Homo sapiens: one gene and its partners. The protein of the gene in region 1 interacts with the protein of each later gene in a pairwise test. Each region holds a gene or a part of one and is shown in the gene's direction. Other genes may lie near its edges. The genes, in order: PBX3, CMTM4, TVP23B, SCAMP1, SFT2D2, RNF186 and TMCO2.

Evidence for each region.
Region 2: the proteins of PBX3 (region 1) and CMTM4 interact in a two-hybrid assay, tested with the Homo sapiens proteins (one large-scale study listed by BioGRID).
Region 3: the proteins of PBX3 (region 1) and TVP23B interact in a two-hybrid assay, tested with the Homo sapiens proteins (one large-scale study listed by BioGRID).
Region 4: the proteins of PBX3 (region 1) and SCAMP1 interact in a two-hybrid assay, tested with the Homo sapiens proteins (one large-scale study listed by BioGRID).
Region 5: the proteins of PBX3 (region 1) and SFT2D2 interact in a two-hybrid assay, tested with the Homo sapiens proteins (one large-scale study listed by BioGRID).
Region 6: the proteins of PBX3 (region 1) and RNF186 interact in a two-hybrid assay, tested with the Homo sapiens proteins (one large-scale study listed by BioGRID).
Region 7: the proteins of PBX3 (region 1) and TMCO2 interact in a two-hybrid assay, tested with the Homo sapiens proteins (one large-scale study listed by BioGRID).

Annotation. Positions count from the first base shown.
Region 1 is NC_000009.12:125,914,175-125,918,375, forward strand, and holds part of PBX3 (pre-B-cell leukemia transcription factor 3), read left to right. Parts: intron 1-1,511; coding exon 1,512-1,753; intron 1,754-4,201. UniProt on the Homo sapiens protein: Transcriptional activator that binds the sequence 5'-ATCAATCAA-3'.
Region 2 is NC_000016.10:66,630,284-66,634,484, reverse strand, and holds part of CMTM4 (CKLF-like MARVEL transmembrane domain-containing protein 4), read left to right. Parts: intron 1-4,201. UniProt on the Homo sapiens protein: Acts as a backup for CMTM6 to regulate plasma membrane expression of PD-L1/CD274, an immune inhibitory ligand critical for immune tolerance to self and antitumor immunity. May protect PD-L1/CD274 from being polyubiquitinated and targeted for degradation.
Region 3 is NC_000017.11:18,787,298-18,791,498, forward strand, and holds part of TVP23B (Golgi apparatus membrane protein TVP23 homolog B), read left to right. Parts: intron 1-1,737; exon of another isoform or gene 1,738-1,754; intron 1,755-2,055; coding exon 2,056-2,138; intron 2,139-3,598; coding exon 3,599-3,743; intron 3,744-4,201.
Region 4 is NC_000005.10:78,366,416-78,370,616, forward strand, and holds part of SCAMP1 (secretory carrier-associated membrane protein 1), read left to right. Parts: intron 1-4,201. UniProt on the Homo sapiens protein: Functions in post-Golgi recycling pathways. Acts as a recycling carrier to the cell surface.
Region 5 is NC_000001.11:168,228,555-168,232,755, forward strand, and holds part of SFT2D2 (vesicle transport protein SFT2B), read left to right. Parts: intron 1-2,959; coding exon 2,960-3,046; intron 3,047-3,279; coding exon 3,280-3,365; intron 3,366-4,201. UniProt on the Homo sapiens protein: May be involved in fusion of retrograde transport vesicles derived from an endocytic compartment with the Golgi complex.
Region 6 is NC_000001.11:19,813,529-19,816,416, reverse strand, and holds RNF186 (E3 ubiquitin-protein ligase RNF186), read left to right. Parts: upstream 1-1,133; 5' UTR 1,134-1,315; coding exon 1,316-1,999; 3' UTR 2,000-2,388; downstream 2,389-2,888. UniProt on the Homo sapiens protein: E3 ubiquitin protein ligase that is part of an apoptotic signaling pathway activated by endoplasmic reticulum stress.
Region 7 is NC_000001.11:40,246,267-40,251,082, forward strand, and holds the start of TMCO2 (transmembrane and coiled-coil domain-containing protein 2), read left to right. Parts: upstream 1-1,670; 5' UTR 1,671-1,727; coding exon 1,728-1,964; intron 1,965-4,816.

The DNA of each region.
Region 1 (4,201 bases):
CGCATTTTATGAGTTATCTTTTTGCTCTCCTAAATGAATATATTGTCTTAGTATATTATAGTTTTCAAACCTTATTTGCCTCTGAATAGACAACAGATAAAATTTTAAATTATGGTGAGTTAGTTTTATTATCCAGTTGAAATTATTCTGAAGTATAATTTTAAATGAAAGTGACAGCTTTAAAGTGTTTTGGGGAAGAAATTAAAGTTTTGCATTTGTGTTAAGGCAACCAAGAGCTCTGTCATGCCATGGATGTAATTCAGGGCATCTAGGAATGAAATCTGTTCTTAAAAGAATTGACGGTAGCTTTAGGTTAGCATATAAAATCAGAGTTGGTGATCAGTTGAGTACTTGGCAGCTTATAGATGTTATGTCATGTAAGTTACACTAGACACAAAGTGTGTACCACTGTGGATAAACAACAACAGGCACAGACTCAAAAGAGAATCCAAATACAAACAAGCAAGGTGCCAACTTCCTTTTCCCCTCTTCCCCAAGAAGCCTTGTAACTAGTGTAGGGAACCTGCTTTGAAGCAGATTTACAGAGGTTAATTGGGCTGGGATGTTTTAGATTATGTTACACATTAATGAAAATGCTGATTTTGAGCTGTCATGACTCCAATGCTTTTTATACCATGATAATTATTTTAAAACTTTGTCTTCTGTGTTGTTGAAAACATTTTGGCAGAAAGCCTGTGTGACCTGATTAAACCTATGAATTGTCAGCTATGATCTATAGTACTCAGAAGAGGTTGCTGACTGGGCATCACTTAGGAAGTTCTTGATTTAAAAGCAAAATTAGATTGAGACTACTGTGCCCAGCACTGTATTGCCATGTCAATGGCACATTTTTAATACTGTATTTAGTATCCTCGTTTTATAGTTTGCTGGCAATTGCTTAACAATATTCATTTAATAATATATATATATTTAAGTATAGCCAGTTACCTCATAATGTGTGTATTCCTCTTCTGAAATCACACGATGGAAAAGCTCATCTAATGTTGTTTATTTTTCAATTTTTGATTACAGCTTGTGAATTAACTATTTTATGGGAATTTTAATTCTGTTTCTCCAACTGTACAGAGAGAGACAGAATAACCACCTTTGGATGAGTTGTTTTATATCCCTGTAATTATTTTCTTTCTTTCTTAAAACATTCAATTTTTTACCCTCTTCCCATTTTATGCTTAAATTATCTAAATCTGGGAAGCTTGAATGATTAAAATATTCCAGGAAGCCAGGGTTACCTTTTTCTAAGGATCTAGTCTGTGGTAAATTGAGGCGGTGGGGGGGTATTTAAAATTCTAGGGTGCATGTAAACACTATCTTAAAAATAATTTTCATACTTATTCAAACTTACCGATCAAATGTGAACAATGAAGTTCTCAGCATGAATTGTAGTACACTGATGTTGTTTGATCATTTTCTCGAATAAACAAAATACTCACACTATTTGTCCTCTGTTTCTCGCTTCTTCTCTCTCTGTCTCTCTCTCTCTTTCCTTGAAGGTCTCAGCATCAGAGGAGCCCAGGAGGAGGACCCTCCCGATCCCCAGCTAATGAGACTGGACAATATGCTTTTGGCAGAAGGGGTTTCAGGTCCTGAGAAAGGTGGGGGATCGGCGGCAGCAGCTGCAGCCGCGGCAGCCTCTGGAGGTTCTTCAGATAACTCTATTGAACACTCAGATTACAGAGCCAAATTGACCCAGATCAGACAAATCTATCACACAGAACTGGAGAAATATGAACAGGTCAGCAGCCGCCACTCTCATAGTCCTACACAAACCCTCTGTTGCTCTTCTATTAGACCATGCTAACCAATTCTGAGGGCTGTGAGGGGTAGGTGTTAACACAAATTACAAAATAAATAAGGTCAGTGCAAAAATCCAAGTGAATTGTTGGATTCATGAAAGGAAGACCCTTTGAGATTTTGGAGGAGGAGCGCTACCTATTTTATCCCATCTACTTGTTTTAGTTTTATTCATTCCGCACATTCACGTGCCCTTATTACCACACCTGCAGTCATTCTTCCCTCTCACCTCACCACTTGGTGCTCTTCAAAGCTCTGTATAATTAACATTTATGCACTAGCCTTGTTCATAAGCTTTAATCACTTTTGAAGGGAAGCATTGCACAGTGAGCTTTTCCCTCCTATGCTGTGAGCTCCAGAATCCTCCTGGGAATTAATTCTTATGGATTGTGCCAGACTATAGGGAACTTCACCAAGTAAGCAGGTTCCGGCCTGTTTCTCTGAGTATGAGACCTCCCAAGATAATTATGGGTACCCCAGGACAGGGAATGCTAGGCAAGGCATTATGTGCTAAATTCCTTATTAGAAAGAGAATATGGGTTAAAAATCTGGTTCTCAGCAATTATATTAACCATACTGAATCTCAGATAACTTTAAGTTGCATCTTTATGTAACACCAAGAAAAAATTAATACTGCTAGTTTAACTATAAAATATTACTGATTATAAAATGCTTTCACATTTCAGAGATGTTAAAATGTGGAGAAAAACAAGAGAGTCTTAGATTTAATGTAATAAAGTAAAATATTGGTGGGTCTTTTTACATATATTTTAGTTGTTAGTTTAATGCTGAAAAGCTGCCAAGTTTGAGGAATTCTCATTTGATAAGATTTGTCATTTGGAAGGTAATTTTAAAAACGTATTATGAAACATTTTATAATACATGTACACAAAAATAATGAGAATAGTATTAGATTGAACCCTATGAAATTGCTAAGTTTTGAGGCCAAAAACAGTTGAATATGGTAATTTCATAGAGTTCAACCCCAAATAAGGAATCAGAATCAGCTAGATACTTTTTACCCAGATAAACAGTTATCAACATTTTGCCACTCTTATTTTGTGTACCCAGCCCCAATTTGGTAAGAGTATTTTAAAGCAAGTCTTAGACATCCTATAATTTCACCCATGAGTATTTCACTATGTAGGCAAGTACTTTTTAAAGTCCACACACTTTAGTGTGAAATGGGAGTCCTGGTGAGTTTTGTGTGTGTTTGTGTGTATTTTAAAGACTCTTTTAAAGAGGAGTTTTAAGTTCACAGACCAATTTGAGAGGAAAGAAGAGAGATATCACATATACCTCCTGTCCCCACACATGCATAGTCTCTCCCATTATCAGCATCCCCCACCAGAGGGGTTCATTTGTTAAAATTGATTAACCTACATTGACACATCATTATCACCCAAAATCCATAGTTTACATTAGGGTTCACTCTTGGTATTGTGCACTCTATGGATTTGGATAAATTTATGATGGCATGTACCCATCATTATAGGGTCATGCAGAGTATTTTCACTGCCCTAAAGATCCTCTGTGCTATTCATCCCTCTCTTCTTTTATTCTTTCCTTCCCACTGATCCCTGGCAACCCCTGATCAGTTTTAATACTGATTTTTTCCCCTCTACATTCCCTGTATAGTTTCAATTATATATATCGTTGTTTTTTCACATTGCCTTTTCTAATATTCTGGATACAATGGTATTAAGCAAATGCTGAATCCTATCCCAGAGGTGAGTGTGTTTTGAGGAAGAGTAGAAAAATTTGTATAGCTTTAAGTTAAAAAGTAGTGTAAATTAATATTATAAGGTGTTTTCTATTTTTGGAATAGGATTTTCTGAGATCTAAAATTGTATGTCTAGTCTCATTTGTAAGAATAACTTCTTGTGGAAAATGTACAAATAAGAATTTTGGAAAAATTATCGTGTGTATGTATGTAAAAATCCCACTTTCTGATTTGACATATGAATAATTGAGAGTAAACAAAATAAGTCATGGTTGAAAAGGTTGCCCCTGAGCATAAACAGTAGAAAATGACTCTTATTTGTAGTATAATCCTAATTGTATAACTTTATGCTAAAATAACTATAACTACTTACTAGATAAACACTACCAGTCACCTTGCATGGAAAGAGATATAATATTAGAGGCCAAATGGCCTGAGTTTTTTGGCTGAGGAATTAAGGTGATTCCTTACTACCTCTTGCCATGTGTCTTTACACCTGCCTCCTTACTTTCTCCATACACTCTGGTGGAAGTTGTGTGAAGCTGGTGTCAGTCAATGACAAGGTCCTGAGTCTCACTGTTTTAGAAATATCCTACAAAATTTTCCATGAGATTTTATGTAACTTTAGCCCCAGCTTATACCAGCATCAAATCACCAGGGTTTTTT
Region 2 (4,201 bases), on another chromosome or scaffold:
AATACCTACTTTTTGTTGTTTTTGGGTTTTTTTTTTTGTTTTTTTGAGACAGAGTCTTGCTCTGTTGCCCAGGCTGGAGTGCAGTGGCGTGATCTCGGCTCAATGAAACCTCCGCCTCCCGGGTTCAAGCGATTCTCCTGCCTCACCCTCCCTAGTAGCTGAGATTATGGGCATGTACCACCATGCCCAGCTAATTTTTGTATTTTTAGTAGAGATGGGGTTTCACCATCTTGGCCAGGCTGGTTTCAAACACCTGACCTCAGGTGATCCACCCACCTCAGCCTCCCAAAGTGCTGGGATTACAGGTGTGAGCCACCACACCCAGCCCAGAAATACCTATTTAGTGAGCTTTCTGGAATTCTGCTTTTTCTATTTTAATCATGAAAGATTTTCCACTTGTTGACTACCACACTACCATGTCACCGGTCATGTTGAGGTGCATCTCTCCCCAGGGAAGTTGATACTCGTTCTTTTCCTCTGGGTGGTGGTGGCCTGGGCCTGTGGTTGGGTGTTGGTGATGTGGTCACTTGAGAACACGATCCTGTTCTTTGGGATCCGTTCTAGACTTTCCACTCTTTTGGAGCAGATAAAGGCTGTGTGTTTGCCCAACAAAAGGGCATATACCTTACATGAACTTGAGGAGATGGTACCTTTTTTTTTTTTTTTTGAGATGGGGTCTTGCTCTGTCGCCCAGGCTGGAGTGCAGTGGTGCGATCTCGGCTCACTGCAACCTTTGCCTCCCGGGTTCAAGTGATTTTCCTGTCTCAGCCTCCTGAGTAGCTGGGATTACAGGCATGTGCCACCGTGCCCAGCTAATTTTTGTATTTTTAATAGAGACGAGGTTTCGCCACGTTGGCCAGACTGTTCTCCAACTCCTGATCTTAGGTGATCTGCCCACCTCAGCCTCCCAAAGTGCTGAGGTTACAGGCGTGAGCCACTGCACCCTGCCAAGATGGTATCTATTAAAGGCAGCTCATGTCCAGTGTTCTCTGAGAGGGGTGAAAAAGTGAGCTCCTCACGGCCGATCTCAGCTCATCAACTCGCTACAGAAGGGTTGGCCTTGGCTGTGTTGTGTTTCTGTAACAAGGTGGTGGGAGTATTGGGAGTATTTTTGTCTCCAGCAGAGCCAGCCTGATGGTTAAAATAGGGTGTGATTGGTATAGATTTAAAAACACAGGTCATTCCAGGAGCCCAGGTTGACATAAATATGGATGAGAAATGATAAATAAGGAGGACAGTGCATAATTTTCTACAAGCATAATTTGATGGAATTTGAATGATTCTGTTAATGTCAAGTTTTTGGTTTGGGTTTATTTTTGGATGGATTGTGGGACTTTGATATATATATATATTTATATATATATATTTATATATATATATATTTATATATATATATTTTGAAACGGAGTTTCGCTCTTGTTGCCCAGGCTGGAATGCAGTGGCACAATCTTGGCTCAACGCAACCTCCACCTCCCAGGTTCAAACGATTCTCCTGCCTCAGCCTCCCGAGTAGCTGGGATTACAGGCATGTGCCACCACACCCGGCTAATTTTTTTGTATTTTTAGTAGAGAGGGGGTTTCTCCATGTTGGTCAGACTGGTCTTGGACTCCCAACCTCAGGTGACCTGCCCGCCTCAGCCTCCCAAAGTGCTGGGATTACAGGCGTGACCCACCGTGCCTGGCGATATTTGTTTTTCTCTGTGTCCTAGGAGCTCATACACTCACATGTTCCACCCCTGTTTACTTTGATTAGTGCCACGGGGCTCCTCCTTTCCTCCCCTTCCCTTCTGGGATGTGGCGCTATCTAAAAGGCGTGTCTGATCCTCCCCCATCCCAAAAGCCTGCCAGTGGCTCCCACTCAACTGGCCCCAGAGCCCAGGGCCAGCTCAGCCCCACTTCCCAGAAGAGGAGGTCTGCACTTGCCTTCTCTACTTCCCCCTCTCCTAATCTCACTTTTCTAATCTCTTATTGTCAAATTCTGAAAAAATTATGAAAGTAAATATGGAGTTTAATATACAGCCACCACCTGGGTCAATAAATAGGAGATTGTCAACACCCCAAAAGCTTCCCATGTGTATTTTCCAGCTAAACACACCCCCTGCCCCTTCCCCCAGTCCACCATCCTGACTATGTGGTGGTCTTCCGCAATTCATCTTCAGCCCACTCCAGTCTGGCAGCATTGAAAGTCCCCTGGTCAGGAGCCTGGGACGGGGCCTCCGTGTTCCTAGATCCTCTGGTTGCTCTTGGGTTCTCACCCCACTCAACATCCTGGTGGTGTCTGCTATGGGGCACTCTGTCCTTCCTGCCATACTCTCTCACCTTGCATCCTGGGCCCCCACACTGTCCTGTTTTTCTTCTTCCGCTTTGGTCACCCTTTCTTAGTGGGCTCTGTGGCCCTGGAGGCCTCTTAGGCCTCTATCTCAGAACCCAGGCTGGGTGCTGTGGTGGGTTGAGAACAGTTGGCAGTTACCCACAGGGGCCACTGGCTGAGCCCTGAGCCCTAGGGCGTGACTCGTCTTGTGTTTTTTTATTTTATTTTATTTTATTTTATTTTTTTATTGATCATTCTTGGGTGTTTCTCGCAGAGGGGGATTTGGCAGGGTCATAGGACAATAGTGGAGGGAAGGTCAGCAGATACACAAGTGAACAAAGGTCTCTGGTTTTCCTACGCAGAGGACCCTGTGGCCTTCCGCAGTGTTTGTGTCCCTGGGTACTTGAGATTAGGGAGTGGTGATGACTCTTAAGGAGCATGTTGCCTTCAAGCATCTGTTTAACAAAGCACATCTTGCACCGCCCTTAATCCATTTAACCCTGAGTGGACACAGCACATGTTTCAGAGAGCACAGGGTTGGGGGTAAGGTCATAGATCAACAGGATCCCAAGGCAGAAGAATTTTTCTTAGTACAGAACAAAATGAAAAGTCTCCCAAGTCTACTTCTTTCTACACAGACACAGCAACCATCCGATTTCTCAGTCTTTTCCCCACCTTTCCCCCTTTTCTATTCCACAACACTGCCATTGTCATCATGGCCCGTTCTCAATGAGCTGTTGGGTACACCTCCCTGACGGGGTGGTGGCCGGGCAGAGGGGCTCCTCACTTCCCAGTAGGGGCGGCCGGGCAGAGGCGCCCCTCACCTCCCGGACGGGGCGGCTGGCCGGGCGGGGGCTGACCCCCCACCTCCCTCCCGGACCGGGCGGCTGGCCGGGCGGGGGGCTGACCCCCCACCTCCCTCCTGGACGGGGCGGCTGGCCGGGCGGGGGGCTGACCCCCCACCTCCCTCCCGGACAGGGCGGCTGGCCGGGCGGGGGCTGACCCCCACCTCCCTCCCGGACGGGGTGGCTGCCGGGCAGAGACGCTCCTCACTTCCCAGATGGGGTGGCTGCTGGGTGGAGGGGCTCCTCACTTCTCAGATGGGGTGGCCGCCGGGCGGAGGGGCTCCTCACTTCTCAGATGGGGCGGCCGCCGGGCGGAGGGTCTCCTCACTTCTCAGACGGGGCAGCTGGGCAGAGACGCTCCTCACCTCCCAGATGGGGTCGCGGCCAGGCAGAGGCGCTCCTCACATCCCAGACGGGGCGGCGGGGCAGAGGCGCTCCCCACATCTCAGACGATGGGCGGCCGGGCAGAGACGCTCCTCACTTCCTAGATGGGATGGCGGCCGGGCAGAGATGCTCCTCACTTTCCAGACTGGGCAGCCAGGCAGAGGGGCTCCTCACATCCCAGACGATGGGCGGCCGGGCAGAGGCTGCAATCTCAGCACTTTGGGAGGCCAAGGCTGGCGGCTGGGAGGTGGAGGTTGTAGCGAGCCGAGATCACGCCACTGCACTCCAGCCTGGGCACCATTGAGCACTGAGTGAACGAGACTCCGTCTGCAATCCCGGCACCTCGGGAGGCCGAGGCTGGCGGATCACTCGCGGTTAGGAGCTGGAGACCAGCCCGGCCAACACAGCAAAACCCCGTCTCCACCAAAAAATACGAAAACCAGTCAGGCGTGGCGGCGCGCGCCTGCAATCCCAGGCACTCGGCAGGCTGAGGCAGGAGAATCAGGCAGGGAGGTTGCATTGAGCCCAGATGGCAGCAGTACAGTCCAGCTTCGGCTCGGCATCAGAGGGAGACCGTGGAAAGAGAGGGAGAGGGAGACTGTGGGGAGAGGGAGAGGGAGGGGGGAGGGGGAGGGTGAGGGGGAGGGGGAGAGGGAGAGGG
Region 3 (4,201 bases), on another chromosome or scaffold:
GGCTGAGGCACTAGAATCTAGCTTGAACCCAGGAGGTGGAGGTTGCAGTAAGCTGAGACCATACCACTGTACTCCAGCCTGGGCGACAGAGCAAGACTCTGTCTCAAAAAAAAAAAAAAAAACCTTGTCTTCTAGGTCCTCCAGCAGCTTAATCTATATGGAGGTAGGAGCGGGTAGATGTGCAATAAGAATACTCTGAGATGATTGTTCAAATGGAGATTCGTCCAAGTGCTGTGGGAACATGGGGATTTCAGAGACAGGTTTTCAGCTATTTCAGTATTTGAGCTAAAAAACTTGAAGGATGATTTGGTATTTGGTGGTGAGCAGGGCATGAGGAAGGGAAGAGTTTTCTGAGACAACATGTGAAAGGCAGGAGATGGGAGAGAGATTGTAGTGTTCTTAGAGACCATGTAGTAACAGTATTGCTTCAGTGCTCAACAGTGCTCAATGAAGACAGTGTCAGAAGCAAGTAGGGGGCATTAGATTCTGTGATCTTCTATGCTTTATGTGAAGGAGTTAAATTTTATCCTATACTTGTAGGGATGCCATTGAAAAATTTGAGCAGTAGAGTGACATGGTGTGATTTCCATATTGGGAGGATTGCTCTGGGTAATGTAAAGGAGAGGCTGGAATAGAGAGGGATAAAGGCAGGGAGGCTGGTGAGTGCCACTAGGAGAGGAACAGGATCAGGTTTGTTGTAGTTGAGGGGAATTGCAGTGAATTGAGGCGTGAACCACTCTTAGAAGCCTAAGGTTATGGGGCCGGGCATGGTGGCTCACGCCTGTAATCCCAGCAATGGGAGGCCGAGGCGGCTGGATCACAAGGTCATGAAATCTCCTGGTTAACACGGTGAAACCTGTCTCTACAAAAAAAAATACAAAAAATTAGCCAGGCATGGTGGCACGCGCCTGTAGTCCCAGCTACTTGGGAAGGTGAGGCAGGAGAATCACTTGAACCCAGGAGGCAGAGGTTGCAGTGAGTTGAGGCCACGCCACTGCACTCCAGCCTGAGCGACAGAGCAAGACTCCATCTCAAAAAAAAAAAAAAAAAAAGCCTAAGGTTGTAAAAGGAAGCAATGCTTTGGGAAGGTAGAGGATTGAAGGGGAGATTCAGGATCAGGGTTCTTAAAAAAATCTTTTTTTGCCTAATAAGTGGCCTTGAAGAAGTTTATATGCATATGCTGATTAGAAAGATTCAATAGAGGCCGGGCGTGGTGGCTCATGCCTGTAATCCCAGCACTTTGGGAGGCTGAGGCGGACAGATCACCTGAGGTCAGGAGTTCAAGACCAGCCTGGCCAACATGGTGAAACCCCGTCTCAACTAAAAATACGAAAATTAGCTGGGTGTGGTGGCACACGCCTGTAATCCCAACAACTTGGAAGGCTGAAGCAGGAGAATCGTTTGAACCCGGGAGGCGGAGGTTGCAGTGAGCCAAGATCGTGCCATTGCAGTCCAGCCTGGGTGATGAGCAAAACTCCATTTCAACAACAACAAAAAAGAAAGATCCAATAGATAGACTTGAAGATAGAAGAAAGTGTAAATACAGGGGAAAATGATGAAACAAATCCCCGAGGAGGCATGAAAAGAAGTTATTCTGAGCACAAATAATTGGTTTAGCCTTGGATAAGAAGAGGAGGAGTTGTGAGAAGGGGTCATGGAACTAAGGATGCAGTCAGATGATTTTGTGAAGGAGCCAGAAACCTTGAGATTATCCCCAGTAGCCTCGGCTTGCTCTGTGACTTGGGAGAGAACAGGTGAGGAGGACAGGTGTTAAGTTGTAGTAGCCTCATCTGCACCCTAGAGTTTTCTCAGATGGTGCAGCCTAGGGGCAGGGATGGAGGAGCTGAGACTTCGATTATTCTCTGGGTTTTTTGCCAGATGATTTGAGGAGGCGGGTGGAGGATCTGCATGTGTCCTTTTCCTAGGTTTTGAATTCCTGATGCTGTAACCACATTATTTTATCTTCTATTTTGATGAGTATGCAGCTTTGCATTGCAGTGGCTGTGTAAACACTGAATTTTGTTTTGCTTCTTGACCATTTATTTTTCCTACCAGGATAGTAATGATGACACTGAAGATGTTTCACTGTTTGATGCGGAAGAGGAGACGACTAATAGACCAAGAAAAGCCAAAATCAGGTAGGAGGAGAGAAGTTGCATGAGCTGTGTTAGTGTCCAGTGCTGTTCTGTATGTATGTCAGTGCTAGCTGATGGGAGTCAAGGCAGAGTTGTTTCAATGTGCTTGTGAATACTGCATGTTGCTAATTTGACGTTTAGTGTACGACAAAGATGACATTTCAGATTTTCTTGTGAATAATTGGCATACTTAATACTGAGTTTTAAAATCAGCAAATCCAATTATTTGAACACCTGTGTTTTTAATTCTGTGCTATTTTCCAAGAATGTACCATTTCTTTATATAGTTTCTATAGATACATTACATTTTGATTTATTGTGCACATTTCAAAATCACATAACATTTCTATTCTAAATTTAATTCTCTCTAAAGAAATTCACTTACTGAAAGCAAATTCTACTTGAACCCTGCTAAAATGCTGTCTTTTACTTTTCTTTCATCTTTCATGCCAGTCACAAAAGACCACATATTGTATGATTTCATTTATATGAAATGTCCAGAATAGGCAAATCTGTAGAGACAGAAGATAGATTAGCTGTTGCTAGAAGCTGAGGGGTTTGAAGGTAAATGGGGAATGACTGCCAGTGGGTACAAAGATTCTGTCTGGGGTAATGAAAAGTTGTAAAATTGGAGTGATGGTTGTACAAATCTGTGAATGTACTAAAAACCATTAGATTGTTTACCTTAAATAAGTAAATTGTATGATATGTGAATTATATCTCAAAAAAGCTATTAAAAAACAAGAAACAGGCTGGGCACGATGGCTCATGCCTGTAATCCCAGCACTTTGGGAGGCCGAGGCAGGTGGATCACGAGGTCAGGAGATTGAGATCATCCTGGCTAACATGGTGAAACCCCATCTCTACTAAAAATACAAAAAATTAGCCGGGCGTGGTGGCAGGCGCCTGTAGTCCCAGCTACTTGGGAGGCTGAGGCAGGACAATGGCGTGAACCCAGGAGGTGAAGTTTGCAGTGAGCCGAGATTGTGCCACCAAACTCCAGCCTGGGCGACGGAGCGAGACTCCGTCTCAAAAAAAAAAAAAAAAGAAAAGAAAGAAAGAAACAAACTACCTGATAACTTTGTCTTAATGTCTGAGTGATTTCTGAGGGCTAAGGAATTCTTTTGGTGTGATTTGAAAATAGGATTCAAATTCTAAGATACAGTTTCCTTATTTCTCCAAGAGAGATAAAATTCTTTATTATCTATTTTGTGAAAGTTTATATTCAATGAGGTGTTAAAGTCATCTGTGCATAGTGTATTTTCTGTAACTACAGGGCCTAGTCAAATAGTGGGGCTTAAGAAAAAGAGAGCTAGGAGGTTTGCTTCATCCTACTAAAGTCACCTCTTTTATTTTGACAAAACTCTTCACAGTTACACGATGGCTAAAACATTTTTCTCTACATTTGCTAGTACCTGTAGTAAAATGTAATTGCATTTCTTTCATTGTGTTTTGGTTTTCAGACATCCAGTAGCATCGTTTTTCCACTTATTCTTTCGAGTCAGTGCAATCATCGTCTATCTTCTCTGTGGGTTGCTCAGCAGCAGCTTTATTACCTGTATGGTGACAATTATCTTGTTGTTGTCGTGTGACTTTTGGGCAGTGAAGGTAATTTTGATTGTTTTTATTTTAAAATTATATTTAATATGAAAATGATGTATAAAAATATGAGTTAGCATTTTGCATTATTGTTAATCTTTTGTTACTTCAAACCTCATCTGTGTTGAAGTGCTAGATATATCAAATTGCATGTAGTTTTTTTTTTTTTTTTTTTTTTTTTCATTTTTTCCCTTTGACAATACAAGATGAGACATGCAGGTTACTGTGCTGCTGATTTTTCTGTGCCATATTCTAACCTACATCAGCTTTAAAGTCAAATAAACAAACAAAAGTGACTAGCAACCATAGACCCTACAATGTTGCTTCTAATCCATACCATGGGTTTTGCTTCAGGCTTACCTGTAGGTGTGTTGTATATAATTTCTAGATAAGGCCCCAGTGTAGTTTGTCCACAAATACCTAAAAAATACCTACCTTTTGAAAAGGCTCCTATGGATGCTTTAAGG
Region 4 (4,201 bases), on another chromosome or scaffold:
TTACAGGTGTATGCCACCACACTTGGCCTCTGGGTCCTTTTTTTAATAGGGATATTAATCCCATTCTTGAGAGCAGAGCCCTGCTGACCTAGTCACCTCACAAAGTCTTCACCTTCTGATACCATCACGTTGGTGATAGGTTTCAGCATGTGATTTTTAAGGAAACAAACGTTCAGACCTTAGTTTTCATTTTGTAACATCAAGAATGTTATCCATCTTATTTCATTTACCTTGACAATGATACTTACAAGTTGATTTCACTCCTCCCTTATCTGTTTAAAATTTTGAGGCTGAGCTTGATAGCTCATGCTTGTAATCCCAGTGCTTTGGGAAGCCAAGGCAGGAGGATTGCTTGAACCCAAGAGTTTGAGACCAGCCTGGGCAACATAGTGAGACTTCCATCTCTACTAAAATTTAAAAGTTAGCTGGGTGTGGTGGTGCACACCTGTAATCTAAGCTACTTGGGAGGCTGAGGCGGGAGGGTGACAGAGTGAGACCCTGTCTCAAAAAAAAAAAAAAAAACCCAAAAAACAAACAAAAAAAAGATATAAAATTTTGAGTTTGGAGATTGGATAGCACTAGGAAAGTATTCTGAGGATTTCCTTTGTGATTGTCACATTTTGAAAACTGTCTTTTAACATTAATCTGGAACATAGTGGTTGCAGTTTGTGGGCCTGTGTTATTTTACGTTCATGTCAACTGCATGAATTCCTGCTCATTTTTCCTCATGTTAATGTTTTTAAAAAGCACATATTGAGCTGCTGTTATATTTCATCAACTTAAGATGCCATCCTTTGTAAGATGCACCATTATCTTATTTACCACTGTCTCACTTATCTGTTGCTATGTAACAATCCCAAAATATAATGGCTTAAAATAACAATTATTTGCTCACGATTCTGTTAATTGCGCTAGACTTAGCTGGGCAGGTTTTTTCTTTTTTTTAATGTTCTTTTCTGGAGTCACTAAAGTGGCTTCAGTCACCTGGTTTATGGTTTCAGATATCCTTACTCAAGTGCCTGCTGGTTACCTGGAGATGTCAGTGGGCACAGCAATTAGCTGTCTTTCATGTAGCCTCTCTACTAGTAATAAATGGGCTTTGTGCATAGTAGCAGCAGTGCTCCCAGAGGGCAAGAGCTGAATCTACAAGGCTTCTTGAATCATATGCTACTTCTGCTGTATTCTGTTGGTCAAAACAAGGCACAAGTTCAGCCTAGATTTTAAAAGGAGTGGCAAGCAATAGGCTCCACTTCTTGACTGGAGACAGACCTATGATCTGAAGATACACCTAGTATAAAATGGCGAGGTAGTCGTAGGATAACTTCACTAGACACTCCCATTCAAATAGGGAAAGAGTGGGAGGCGTGTAGCACCTGCTGATGCATAGCAGTTCTGAAATCTAGCCAGGCACGTGTTGTTAGGGTCCCCTACATTGGGGACAATGAATGTTTCTTGATTAGGGCCCAGTTCTGCTACCTCGTATTGGTTCCTTCACCTGTTATTTTCTTCTGCTTTTGGCTCCACCCTCTGAGAGGTCCTTTATTTATTTTTTTCTATAAGAATGAGCCCTTTTGGCAGCTGAGTAGCATTTTTGGCCTGCTTCTTGCCCATTGAAAATTGGGAGCCCAGAAGTTTCTATTAATTTTGAACTGTTTCTTTAGTCCAGGCTGTCACAACTCTCTTAACAGTTTCTTTTTAATCTTACCAGAGTTCAAACCATGCCTTAAAAACCACATTTGTCATTCTTTTTGAGACAATCTTCATTTAGGGTGAAGTGTCCGTTGCCATGGTCGGTATTCTTCAGATGTTTAGAAAACTTTTGTCTAGGTTGAGCATCTCATATGGCCAGGGGAAGGCTGCTGCCATAGGAGGCTGCTGTGCCACGTGACAAAACTAAGATTTGAACACAGTTTTATTTTGGCCCTGTAGCTTTACAGTCATATGAGATGATGGTGATTATGAAAATTTCGAAAGTAAACTGTTCTTGTGCTGATATTACCAAAAGTTTTTTTTGGACTATGATTAATATTTAATAGTGATAAATGCAGATCCAAATAATTTATTGGTTATTTCCTTAATATGAACCACCAGTGTGATATAGTTGCTGAAAAATATATATTGGCTTAGTGAAATTAGTGATCAGTTCCTTAAAATTAATAATCCTATAGTATTCTGTTCTGGTCTAATAGCTGGGTATTCTTCTCAATTGCAAGTGCATATTTAAAGAGTGGTTTGAAAATACTAGGATATGCCCAAAGAGGACAGTCAGAATGGTCATGGGACTGGAATCAAGTTCTAGGAAGAACAATTTAAGTTTCAATTACTCAGTGGATTTAGTCTACAGAGGGCTAAAGGGAAATAGGAGAGCTCCCATCAGATACTTAAAGTGTTCTTAGGTAAGTGAATAAACTTGTTATTTGTTGCTTTAGAAAAAGAATCTAAGGTTAACTGGCAAAGTTTACTTGAAGGTAAAGGTAAATTTTGTCCAAACAGACTTTTAAAAATCTGCTACCATGGCCTGACAATGCTCTTTTGGTAGGGCATTCTCCAGCACTTGCAGAAATTCAAGCAGAAGTTGGATAACCTACAGAGATGCCTAATTTCAATATTGTAATGTCTCAGGGAATAGGGAGACCCAAGGAGAGGGACAGAGAATGGGAACAACTGGTTGGTGGAATAGTCAGGACACACAATTTTTTTTTTTTTTTTGAGACAGGGTCTCTCTCTGTCTCCAAGGCTGGAGTGCAGTGGCGTGATCTCGGCTCACTGCAACCTCCACCACGCAGGTTCAAGCGATTTTCCTGCCTTAGCCTCCCGAGTAGCTGGGACTATAGGCGTGCACCGCCACACCTGGTTACTTTTTGTATTTTTAGTAGAGACGGGGTTTCACCATGTTGGCCAGGCTGGTCTCCAACTCCTGACCTCAGGTGATCTGCCTGCCTTGGCCTCCCAAAGTGCTGGGATTACAAGCGTGAGTCATCGTGCCCGGCCAGGACACATAACATTTATCAAGTAAGTTTGCAGTGTTATGGGCATGGTTTGTGGCACCCCAAGACAATTACAGTAGTAACATCAAGTATCACTGATCACAGATCACCATAGCAGACATAATGATAATGAAAAAGTTTGCAATATTGCGAATACTACCGTAGTGTGACGCTAGAGATGTGAAGTGAGCACATGCTGTTGGGAAAATGGTGCTGCGAGACTTGCTTGATGCAGGGTTGCCACAAACCTTCAATTTATTTTTTTAAAAAAGGCAATATCTGTGAAGTACAGTGAAACTAGGTATTCCTGCATTTTCTCTGTTCTAATATATCGACCATATTGGATATTGGAATTAAGTATGATCAGTTCAGCTAGAGAGGATGCTTTATGTTCAGAGACCAGCTATGCTCTGAGCCTCAGCTTCTGCTGAGGGAGCAGCCCTCATGGTAGCTTACACATTTGTGATCATGTCCTCTAGGGTGTGACTTTTGCCACCCTGGCCTCAGCTGACTGATCTTAACAAAGGTACTTGTCCAAAGCAGTGGAATAGCAGTTATCTCACTAGGCTTTTGAAGGCCATTTTCAAGAATTCCTGTCCTTCATTAGAGGTGTTTTTTAACTAGAAGGGATGTGCCATGTCATGAAGAATTTCAATCTCTGTGAAACCTGGCGTTCTTCTTTCTGTATATATCTTTAAAATATTCTCCTGCTCCCAGCATTTGGGGTGACCTGAGTGAGTCTGTCTGTTTCAACCAGAATTGCTAAACCGTAAGTGTAAAGTAACATTTTCTTGCCAAAAGGGTGATAGAGTTAAGCCTGTATTTAGACCTACAGTTTTTGGTGGTGTAGTGGAGTAATATACTTGCAAATATTGTAAGATGTTTTTAAATCACAAGGGAGAATTTTCCAACTTTCAGTGGGTGTGGGATATAAAAGGTGACATGGAGTTTGGTTAGATTTAACCTTGTAACAAGTCTCTGAGTTGTTCCTACTGAGGCAGTCTGTAATGTCCTGCAGCGTTTGACTTCATATGTGTAGACTGGTGTGGAAAACCCTGTTCTCCTTTCTGTGCAGAAGGCTTGCAGATCTATACCCAGAGAGCAATCCAGTAATCCCCTTCTCCTTGGCATTTGGCTTTGGGTGCTTTTCAGAATTAGTAATGTTTCTTTATCCATTGCTGGACACCTAAGTTGTTTCTGTTTTTTGTCTATTA
Region 5 (4,201 bases), on another chromosome or scaffold:
GGACTTCTTTCTGAAAGTATAGGTTTTATGTTTTTTATAAAGGATTCTGGGGACAAGAAAGGTATGAATAGTATCTAATTTTAAAGTGTGGAAATGAAGCAGTATTTCTTTCTTACCTTCTTCTGGTTACCAATCCTGTTTTTCTGAACAATTCTTAGTATTATTCTTGGCAAGAGCCCCTCTTCTCTCCACATCACAGAGTGAAAGGGACCTTTGTGAATAACTGCCAGTCAGACTGCCTGTGAGCGCATTGCCTACAAATTCCATCCAGGTACCATTTTAGCTACTCTAATTTCCAAAAACAATATGCTAGCACAGCTTCCAGCAGTCATGAATTTACAGACATTTTATGAGTTTGTTTTCATAATTTGGCAAAAAGAAGTGTTTTGCTTTCACTGAGTCCAGTTATGAGAAGTGGAACAACAGCTTCCTCCTTCCCTGACCAAGTGTGAATGTAAAAGAACTTGCAACCACATGTAATGGAAAAATACAGTGGTGAAATATGCCCCCCACCCCTTCCATTTTGGCAAACAGAGTAACATTTGGATGGATTCAGCTTGAGAGACTTGGATATGGAGTGTCACTTTCCTTTCTGAAGGTAGAAACCAGAAACACATTCTTGGCTGAACTGCTTCCTATTGTGGTTATTTTGATTTGTGTGAGGGCTGGAATCTCACTGAGACTGAGCGGAGTCTCGCTCTGTCGCCCAGGCTGGAGTGCAGTGGCTCGATCTCGGCTCACTGCAGGCTCCGCCTCCCGGGTTCAGGCCATTCTCTGGAATCTCACTGTTCTGTTGAGGTTATTTAGCAATCTAGATGTCAAAGCCAATTCAAATTTCATTCTTAACCTTATGGTTTATCCTCTTCAAATAGAAAGGTTGAATCTTTTAAAATTATCCGTGTTGATGCCATGTGGTGCTCAGGGAACCATCCAGTCCAATCTTACTACCACTTTTTTCTTGCTGCTGACAAGCCAGTCCAATCCTACTACCATGCTTCTTCCTGTGAACAAGCCAGGCCAATCCTACTACCGTTCTTCTTCCTACAGACAAGCCATGCCAATCCCACTACCACTCTTCTTCCTACGAACAAGCCAGGCCAATCCTACTACCGCTCTTTTCTTCCCACCTGCAGCTAGTTCTTTTCGCACCTTGGCAAGGTAAGTTCTTTGGTTTTTGCATGACTAGGAAGAGTGGTAGCTTCTCATTTTATTCTGTCCTTGGCGAGAGCTTAAATGCTTTAGTCCGAAGTAGCCTGACTAGATTGTCTGGGGCCTTGTAAAGCCTGCTACCAGAGCATCATCACATGGCTCATTTTGGAGTCCAAGGGGGTTTGGGAAACCAGACTCCTCCAGGAGAGGTTTACCTCAGCGTAAAACCAGGTGGCTCATCTGTCAGATCTTAACACTGGGCCCCTGCTGTCTGTTATCATCCCTAATTTGTGCCTTCTGTGCAGGGTCATGAGCCCAGTTCCATATATATGAATGTATAACCTGACCTAAATACCTTTCTCCTGAGTGGAGAGTAAGGTAGTCTTTGGCAATACGTGCCACACCTGAGGGGAGCCTCTCATCCTTCTTTTCAAGCTTCTGGTTTGACGGGAACTCTGGAGACAGGGTTGAAAACAGATCCCTGAGCTGGGGGTAGTCAAGGCTGACGGAGTTGCCAGTCTAATGACTCTTGACTTTCTGCCACTACCTACCTTCTTCCATCAGCTGGGTGGAAATATAGTAGGAAACTTTGACCACATTGCTAGATGGAGACTATGCTGGCCATACAAGGTGAGCCCTGTGTGAATATACATGGCCTAGCTGCCCTGTGTGGTGTTGGTCTCTTACGGCAGCTGTCTTTGTCCAGCTTGGAACAACTGTTCCCACTTGCATCAGGTGGACAGACTGGTAGGGTCACCAGTGCAAAAACTTTGATGTCATTTTTTTCCGAGACAGAGTTACACTCTTGTTGCCCAGGCTGGAGTACAATGTATGATCTCGGCTCACTGCAACCTCCACCTCCCAGGTTCAAGCAATTCTCCTGCCTCAGCCTTCCAAGTAGCAGGGATTACAGGCATGCACCACCACACCTGGCTAATTTTTTGTATTTTTAGTAGAGACAAGGTTTCGCCATGTTGGTCAGGCTGGTCTCGAACTCCTGACCTCAGGTGATGCGCCCACCTTGGTCTCCCAAGGTGCTGGGATTACAGGCATGAGCCACTGTGCCTGGCTGTTGTCATTTTTGACATGGGAAAAGAACCACTGGGAGCTACTCACAGGCTCTCCTGTTTCAGTAGTGTTTTTGGAACTCCTGGCTTCCCCTGAACTTTGCTCCAGGGAGGGATTAATCATGATGGCAAAGACTCAGGATGTAACAGGACAGTAATTAATTAACCAGGATCTGTCTCCCACTTGGATGAGTTGGCTGATGCCAGCATCCTGTAAGTACAATATCTGAACCAAGAGTGAATAATGTGGGTGAGAGTTGATGTAGGAGACGATGACCAGTGGAGCAGCTGCTTGAGTGCCGTCCCCTCATCTTTTCCTTATTTCCTGGGACCCTGCCTGGTGGAGGATCCCAGGTGGACTTGTGAGTCCCTGGTGGACGCATGCCTTTCCAGGTGTGGTCTTCATCCTGCCTGGGTTGTAGGAAGGCTCTGGGCTACTCTAGGATTGGCTGTCTTGCCTTCCTGTTCTTGAAATGGGTTGTGCTTGAGGCAAGGAGTTTCTACCTCTGAAGATGTTCAGCTGGAGGCACAGCTGTCAGCTGCTAGAGAGGAGATTCATGTCTGCATAATAACTTTACAGCTCTGATAAAGTCTGGATTTGATGACTTACATCGCCTGAGTGTGTAGGATTCTGTGCTCCTTGCCTTCCCTAATACAACTTAACACTTTCTAGATTTAGTTATGTGCTTGCTTTGTTTTTAGTAAATGTGTGTGTATATGTATTTTTTTTTTTTCAATTTTAGGTTGTTGAGGCATCTTCATTAAGCTGGAGTACCAGGATAAAAGGCTTCATTGCGTGTTTTGCTATAGGAATTCTCTGCTCACTGCTGGTAAGATTTCCCTTCCTCCTCTGTCTTTTCCTTCTACCTGTCTTTGCTATATATTCCCCCTTTTGTCCACCTCCTTTCCCCTTTTGCCCTTCACTAAAATGCATGGATGAGAGGAGAGGGGAATAAGGGAGGTGGGGAGGGAAACGGACTCCTCAGGGCTTCCTCTGGGAGCTCTGCTTGTGTGGCCGGGTGGGAGGGTTGCTCATGTGCAAACACTGTACTTTAAATTCCAGGGTACTGTTCTGCTGTGGGTGCCCAGGAAGGGACTACACCTCTTCGCAGTGTTTTATACCTTTGGTAATATCGCATCAATTGGGAGGTAACTGTTTTTTAAAAATCCAATTTTAGCCAATCATTAGATGGGAAAATGGATGTTGGTTGCCCTTGAGGGAGGTGAAAGAGGAGGCTCCAGTAGTTGTAAGGAATTTGGAGAGAAGTAGTTAGAATATCTCACATTCATATCTTATTATTTGAAAACATTTTATATCTTAGTTTGAAACACCTGGGAGAAAGCAGCAAATGTTTTGCCATCGTGATTTTACATGTACAGAAACTGCGACACAAAGCAGTTCAGTGATTTCTCCAGGGTTTACAACCCAGTCCTCCTGCTTGCTGTATTCTTACTGCTGTCAGAGATTGAGTTGATGGTTTTCAAAGGGCTCATCACTCCAGTGGCCATAAGGGAAACTGGTTTTTATTTAGTGTCAGACCTTCCCAGACCTGAGTAGCAGCTCATGTGGGCAGGGCATCTGAGCGCTTCCTGGAGGTGGGCAGCCCATTCTGCATGTTGTGGATGCACACATTTTCCAGGTCAAGCTCATTCACACTGATGCTTCAGTCACACTGGTGCCAACAACTCCACCCTCTCCAACTGGGAGCACTGGCCTGGCCTCTACCTGAATGACCTGCAGGAACCTGAGCTCAGTCATCTTGTTTCCCCCTTTTCCCTTCCCTTGTGTCTCTGTAAATGGCTTCAGAGTCCTGGGGGTCCAAGTCTCCCCTCCATGATTCCTCACCAGGGCTTGATGTAACCCTGTCTTACTGGCTCCTTCCTCTTTGTCCCCATGGCTGTTTGTGCTTCACTGACTGACTTGCATGCTCAATGGGTAAGCATTGATCACACTCTGTGCTGGGCTCAGAGGATACAAAGACAAG
Region 6 (2,888 bases), on another chromosome or scaffold:
GCCTGAATGAAACATTTGTTTGAGGGAGTGCACATGCCACCCCGCCATTTGCCCTTGAGGGCAAAGTAAGGAAATCACGTTTTCCTAACTGCTGTGTTACTAATATCTGCCTGTCTCACATGAGTCCTCTTAGCCTACGCCACCCGGCTGGGGCCAGTTGTGTCCAAATGAACCAATGAAATTGATTCAACCAGACCTTGGACGCTGGTAGATTCCACAAGGTCCTGCTCCATGGAAGGCCCCTTGGCAGGCAGCCAGCAGCCTACCCTGACCACACCCTGCCCTTGTTTCCCAGCCTTCCCTACAAGGCTGTATCAGGGTTCCGGGAAATGGGGGCTGGGGACCCCGGGCACAGGGCTTGGCTTAGAGTAGGCCCAAATAAATGGCAGCTGTTCTTAGTACTACTGGATACGCAGCATGCCTAGCACAAAACAGGACACCTGTGATTAGGCATGTGAAGTGTGCAGCAGGGCACCGATGGGAAGTTCATACACCCGTAACTGTGAATACAACAGCTGTGGCTCTAAGGAAATGAATACAGTAGCAGGTGCCAAACACCTGTGCGCTGTATGTGGTTTTGTTTTTCTGCGTTGGGTTGGGCTTTGTCCTCCTTCCACTCACTTTTCTTACCTCTCCCCTCCTCTTTCCAAGGCCACCTGCCTGTAAATGTGCTCCAAGTGCAAACAAACTTTTTTCCACTCATCCTGACATCCAAAAGTTTGTGTCTGAGAAAGCAGTGTCCACCAATCCACCTATGTCCGACTCATAGGGCTGTCTGTTTATTGTGCAGATTTGTAGATGCCAGTGAGCCAAGATCGGGCCACTGCACTCCAACCTGAGAGAACGAGACTCCGTCTCAAAAAAAAAAAAAAAAGTTAAATAAAAAAAATTAATAAAAGGTTCAGGGACCTGGGAAGTGGGGGTGAGAGAGTTGGATTCTGCTGCCTCCTAAAGCTTGAGCCACAGTTCTGTGGGCACCCACCAGGTACCTGGCCCCAACAGGAAAGTCCTGATTCACTAGACCCTTGCCCACTTTGCCCTCCTATCAGGCAATTCAAAGTCTCCAGACCCGCAAGTTACTGATTAACCCTAGGTTTTGAGAAAATAAATAATAATAACTGAAGGGACGACGTAAGCCAAGAAACAAGCTGGGCAGCTCTGGGAGAGAGGAGTGTCAGACAGCTGTTGTCAACAGGCACCTGGCCAGAGTGAAAAGGAGGGGCAGATTCCATCCAAGTCCCAGCGGCGCCAGCTGACACTCTCTGCCAATGCCCAGGTGCTGAGCGACAGTGTCCCACCGGTCCCTGTGCCCAGAATGGCCTGCACCAAGACCCTGCAACAGTCCCAGCCCATCTCCGCAGGAGCCACCACAACCACCACCGCTGTGGCCCCTGCTGGGGGTCATTCTGGCTCCACAGAATGTGACCTGGAGTGTCTGGTGTGCCGGGAGCCCTACAGCTGTCCCCGGTTGCCCAAGCTGCTGGCCTGCCAGCATGCCTTCTGCGCCATCTGCCTGAAGCTCCTGCTGTGCGTGCAGGACAACACCTGGTCCATCACCTGCCCGCTGTGCCGCAAGGTCACCGCCGTCCCCGGGGGCCTCATCTGCAGCCTGCGCGACCATGAGGCGGTGGTGGGGCAGCTGGCCCAGCCATGCACAGAGGTATCGCTCTGTCCTCAGGGGCTGGTGGATCCTGCTGACTTGGCAGCAGGACACCCCAGCTTGGTGGGAGAGGATGGACAGGATGAAGTAAGTGCAAACCACGTGGCAGCCCGGCGCCTGGCCGCGCACCTACTCCTGCTGGCCTTGCTCATTATCCTCATCGGGCCCTTCATCTACCCGGGTGTCTTACGATGGGTGCTCACCTTCATCATCGCCCTGGCCCTGCTGATGTCCACCCTCTTCTGCTGTCTCCCCAGCACCCGGGGCAGCTGCTGGCCCTCCTCCAGGACTCTCTTCTGCAGAGAGCAGAAACACAGCCACATCTCTTCCATTGCCTGAGTGCCCTCTGATGAGGCTATCCCTGCAGCCCTTTCTGCCCTTGGGCCCCCGGACTTCCACAATGAACAGGGTAAGGGGTTACGGACTAAGACTGGCTCCTTTGGGAAATCACATGCCAGCGGGACTTGCAAGCCACAACCGAGATGGCCAGCCTGGGTCAAGAATTACACGCTTGGATGACAGGCTTGCACTTGCCCTTGGGATAGCATAGCTAAAACTGTTGGTGGCTAGGGGAGCAGACACAAACTACTTGAACATGACAAGATGGGGGAAGCTCCTGTTCCTCTTATTCCAATGTTCTTGGTTTTTCTTTATATAACTTGATGAAAGTATTGCAGTATTGATGCCATTGTAGAATAGAACTGGAATTCCATTCTTTTTGCAATTTATGTAGCTGGTTTTGTTTTCTTGTTTTCCTTTGTTTTTTTGGGTTTGGGGCAGCAGTTGGTTCACATTTCCCTTTGTTACACATTTTCCCTCCTGGGAGCTTGGAGTCCACGGGGAGGTCCCACTGCGCTTCCTCTAACACTGAGCATCTCATGCCCAGCCTAGCCTCGGCAAGTGTCCTGGTTGTTTAGGTCTCCCATGGAGTTGACCCTAGGGTTGGGGAGACAAAATGTGTGTGAAGGGATGGTGTTTCTGAAGCTGCAGGGGGAGTCCCACATTTAGCTGGCAGAGATGGGGAGGGGTGGAGAGGGCAGGGTTTGGGAATTGCTCCCAGTATCCTCACTAGGAGTTCCCCACTCCGTGCCACTAGGCCCTGACTTAGCAGCAAATCTCGGGGTTACAAGGACTGCAGTCCACATACAGTGGGGCCAGCTGCCCATCTATTGCACAGTCCCACACGGTAGAACTAGATCTTTATGGATGTTACCGTCTTTGTTATTGC
Region 7 (4,816 bases), on another chromosome or scaffold:
GCAGGAGAATCGCTTGAACCCAGGAGGCAGAGGTTGCAATGAGCTGAGATCGCACCACTGCACTCCAGCCTGGGCAACAGAGCGAGACCCTGTCTCAAAAAAAAAAAAAAAAAGAATTTACCAAAGGCTTGAAAGTAGGCATTGCCTAAGTCAGTAAGTCCTAATAGGGCATGATATGGAAGACTACTGAGTGGAAGTGACTGACAGATGAGTGGGTGGATGCCACTATTAAAGGTAAACTGAAGGCCGAGTGTGGTGGTTCACGCCTGTAATCCCAGCACTTTGGGAGGCCTAGGCGGGTGGATCACGAGGTCAGGAGTTCGAGACCAGCCTAACCAACATGGTAAAGCCCCGTCTCTACTAAAAATAAAAAAATTAGCCAGGCGTGGTGGCACATGCCTGTAATCCCAGCTACTCAGGAGGCTGAGCCAGGAGAATCGCTTGAACCCCAGAGGCAGAGGTTGCAGTGAGCCAAGATTGCGCCACTGCACTCCAGCCTGGGAGACAGGGCGAGACCAAAACCCCGCCTCAAAAAAAAAAAAAAAAAAAAAAAAAAAAAAAAAAAAAAGCCCTGTTTATATCCTACCTCCTTGCTGGGTGCAGTGGCTCATGCCTGTAATCTCTGCACTTTGGGAGGCCAGGGCAGGTGGATCACTTGAGGTCAGGCATTCTAGACCAGCCTGGCCAAAATGGTGAAACCCCATCTCTACTAAAAATACAAAAAATTAGCCAGGCGTGGTGGCGGGCGCCTGTAATCCCAGCTACTCAGGAGGCTGAGGCAGGAGAATCGCTTGAACCTAGGAGGCATAGGTTGCAGTGAGCTGAGATCGCACCACTGCACTCCAGCCTGGGCGACAGAGTGACACGCCAGCTCAAAAAAATAAAAATAAAAAATCCCATCTCCTCACATTTCCATTCAACCTCAATACAACTCAGTTTTTTTTATTATGTGAAAACAGCTGCAACAGCTGCTGTCCATTTGAATTGTTGGAAATGTAGATCTACACTAACCAAGAGAGAAGCCACTAGCCACAGGTGGCTATTTAACTTTTTTTTTTTTTTTTTTAGATGGAGTCTCGTTCTGTCACCAAGGCTGGAGCACAACATCAGCTCACTGCAACCTCTGCCTCCCAGGTTCAAGTGATTCTCCTGCTTCAGCCTCCCAAGTAGCTGGGACTACAGGTGTGCACCACCACGTCAGGCTAATTTTTGTATTTTTAGTAGAGACAAGATTTCACCATGTTGGCCAGGCTGGTCTCGAACTCCTGGGCTCAAGTGATCCACCTGCCTCAGCCTCCCAAAGTGCTGGGATTACAGGCGTGAGCCACCATGCCCAGCCAAATTTAGTTAAAATGTAAAATGCAATCTCTGCTGCACTATTCACATTTCAGGTAACTAGTGGTTACCATATTGGACATGGCAGATAAAGAACATTTTCATTATTGCAAAAAGTTGTACTGGACAGCACTATGCTAGAGCCAGAACTAGCCAAAGATCAGACAAAGCAATATGAATGAACTGAAAACCCAGGCCGGTGCCTGGTTGGTTTTGAGTAAGATTCATTGGTTGGGTGAGTGGGAAGCAAGCTGACCTTTGGAACAGTGACATCACAAAGCACAGCTCACAATGGCTCTGGAATACCTAGGCCTCCAGACTACTCCCCCTAACTCATATTTAGATTCCTGAAGCTTCTGCACATGTAGTTCCTAGAGCTGCTGCTTATTAAAATGTCAACATCTTCATCTTCTAGCTGGGACAACCTCTTAGAGTCTCTCTCTCTCAGCACAGTATGGAATTGGATACAAGCAAGTTTTTTGGGAGAGACTAGTGCACCTCAGCAAACAAGTTTGGGACTATTAGATAATCTTGCTCCAGCTGTGCAAATCATCTTGAGGATTTCTTTCTTGATTTTATTGGGAATAGGAATATATGCCTTATGGAAACGAAGTATTCAGTCAATTCAGGTTATACTCTTTTGTTACAAACATTTATATAGTTATAAATTGAAATTTGATTAGTTCTCTCCCATATTGCTGCCACCAGTTTTAAGATCATGCAGATGTGCAAAGGCGAACCTTTGTCTCTTAAGTTGGCAAAAACTAGGTTATCCTTGAAAATCTCCACCAATTAGGCTTTGGGCATAAAAATGCTTTTCTCACAATGGTCTTTGGCTTGTCTTCTGTAATAAAATAGACCAAACATGTTGGTAACCTGAAAAGACAGCCTTACCCTCAAAAATTTTTGATCACTTATTCATCTTTGAGTGCTACTATGTTTATACAATAGGCACCAAAGTAGCTAGGATCATGAGTATGGCCTTTCTTACTATGCCATTGTTCTGTAACTGATAAGGAGGCATATGTATTAAGTCATCACAATGTGTTCATTATTGTGTTTTGACAAGATAAGGCTCCATAAGTATATAGGAGCTCTTTGGGGAGTAGGAATTTAACTGGCTGGGATTGTGAGAGACAGGATTTTACATACTTCTGTGTAGTCACCAATAATAATAGTTGACATACAATATAGTTGAATGCTTTGAGAATCTCAAAAATTCCATGAAATGGATGGAGATTATTTTCACATGACAAGTGAAGAAACTGAGGTGCACTGAGGTTCAGTGGAAACTTAAGGTGACAGGCTTTTAAAACGGCTTTCTTAGAGTGACAAGTTTACTTGATAAATGCAGAGAGAAGTTGTTATTGGATCATTTTTTAGCATTCACTTATTTTCATATGTCACTATTGTTTAGTAATCATGGTCACGGGGCCTTTCTATTTTAAACCATCACAATCCTGCATAACAGTCAGGGAGAGATTATTTGCTCCATTTTGTAGATGAGAGAACTTGATTGCTACCCACCCAAGTTCACATAGTTTGTAAGAGCTGGCAAAATTGGAGTTTGAATCGAATTTTTAGGATTTGAAATTCAGTTCTTCTCCAAAATCTCATTTAATGCAAACCAACTGACCTAAATCTTGAACAGGAATGTGTGTGTGTGTGTGTGTGTGTGTGTGTGTGTGTGTGTGTGTGTGTACGCGCATGCGCATATATATGTGTATTGTGAGGATTAAAGAAGATATTGTATGTGTAAATCTTAGCACATATATTCAATAAGTGGTGCTACAGTGAAACCCCATCTCTACTTAAAATACAAAAATTAGCCGGGTGTGGTGGTGGCACGCGCCTGTAGTCCCAGCTACTCAGGAGGCTGAGGCAGAAGAATTGCTTGAACCCGGGAGGTGGAGGTTGCAGTGAGCCAAGATCGTGCCACTGCACTCCAGCCTGGGCGACAAAGACTGTGTCTCAAAAAAAAAAAAAGTGGTGCTAGTTGTTATAATAAGGAACAAGATGATTTTTTTTCTTATCCTAGCAAGAATCTGTCCTACTATACATATTCTTTTGTTATTTATTTATTTATTTTGAGATGAAGTCTTGCTCTTGTCCCCTAGTCTGGAGTGCAATGGTGCAATTTCGGCTCACTGCAACCTCTGCCTCCCAGGTTCAAGCAATTCTCCTGCCTCACCCTCCCGAGTAGCTGGGATTACAGGCGCATACCACCACACCCAGCTAATGTTTTGTATTTTAAGTAGAGACAGGGTTTCACCATGTTGGCCAGGCTGGTCTCGAACTCCTGACCTCAGGTGATCCGCCCACCTTGGCCTCCCAAAGTGCTGGGATTACAGGCATGAGCCACCGTGCCCAGCATATGCTTTATTTTTATTTTTTATTTTTTTTTTATGTTTTAGAGACAGTGTCTTGCTCTGTCGCCCAGGCTGGAGTGCAGTGGTGTCATCATAGCTCACTGCAGCCTCAAATTCCTGATCTCAGGTGATCCTCCTGCCTCAGCCTCCTGAGCAGTTGGAACCATAGGCATGCACCACCAGGCTTGGCTAATTTTAAAAATTTTTTTGTAGAGACAGGGTCTCGCTACGTTCACTATGTTGCTCAGGCTGGTCTTTAACTCCTGGCCTCATGCAATCCTCCCATCTCAGCCTCTCAAAGTGCTGGATGCAGTGGTCCACACCTATAATTTATTTTATATAAATAAAATATATATATATATACATTAATTTTTTTAAGAGACAGGGTCTGGCTATCTTGCCCAGGCTGAAGTGCAGTAGCCATTCACAGGTGCCATCATAGCACACTACTCCTGGGCTCAGGTGATCCTCCCACCTTACCCTCCCTAGTAGCTGGGACTATATGTGTGTGCCATTGTACCCAGATCTCTCCTAGTATATTTTAAAAACCTTTTCCATGACCAAGAAATCCAGTTTTTCAGACTACTATGTCCTAAAGTGTACTTGGAAGTGTGAATTTCTGGATTCCTGTCCTGGCTCTGCCACTTCCAATATATAACCTTGGACAATGACAGAGTTCAAACTAGAAGGTATATAGTTATCCAGTTGTGTTTTTTCTGCATAAATAGATCATGCAAAGGCAAAGTTACTTCCAGACATTCAGAAAATGGTTATCTATTATTACAATCTTGATTAAATGCAAATAATAATCCTGCCTGACCTGCCTACCTCTCCAGTTTGCAGTGAAAATCAAAAGATGAAATAGGTGTGAAAATATTTTGCTAAGGCCGGGCATGGTGGCTTACGCCTGTAATCCCAGCATTTTGGGAGGCCACGATGGGCGGATCACGAGGTCAGGAGATTGAGAACATCCTGGCTAACACGGTGAAACCTCGTCTCTATTAAAAATACAAAAAATTAGCCGGGCGTGGTGGTGGGCGCCTGTAGTCCCAACTACTCAGGAGGCTGAGGCAGGAGAATGGCGTGAACCTGGGAGGCGGAGCTTGTAGTAA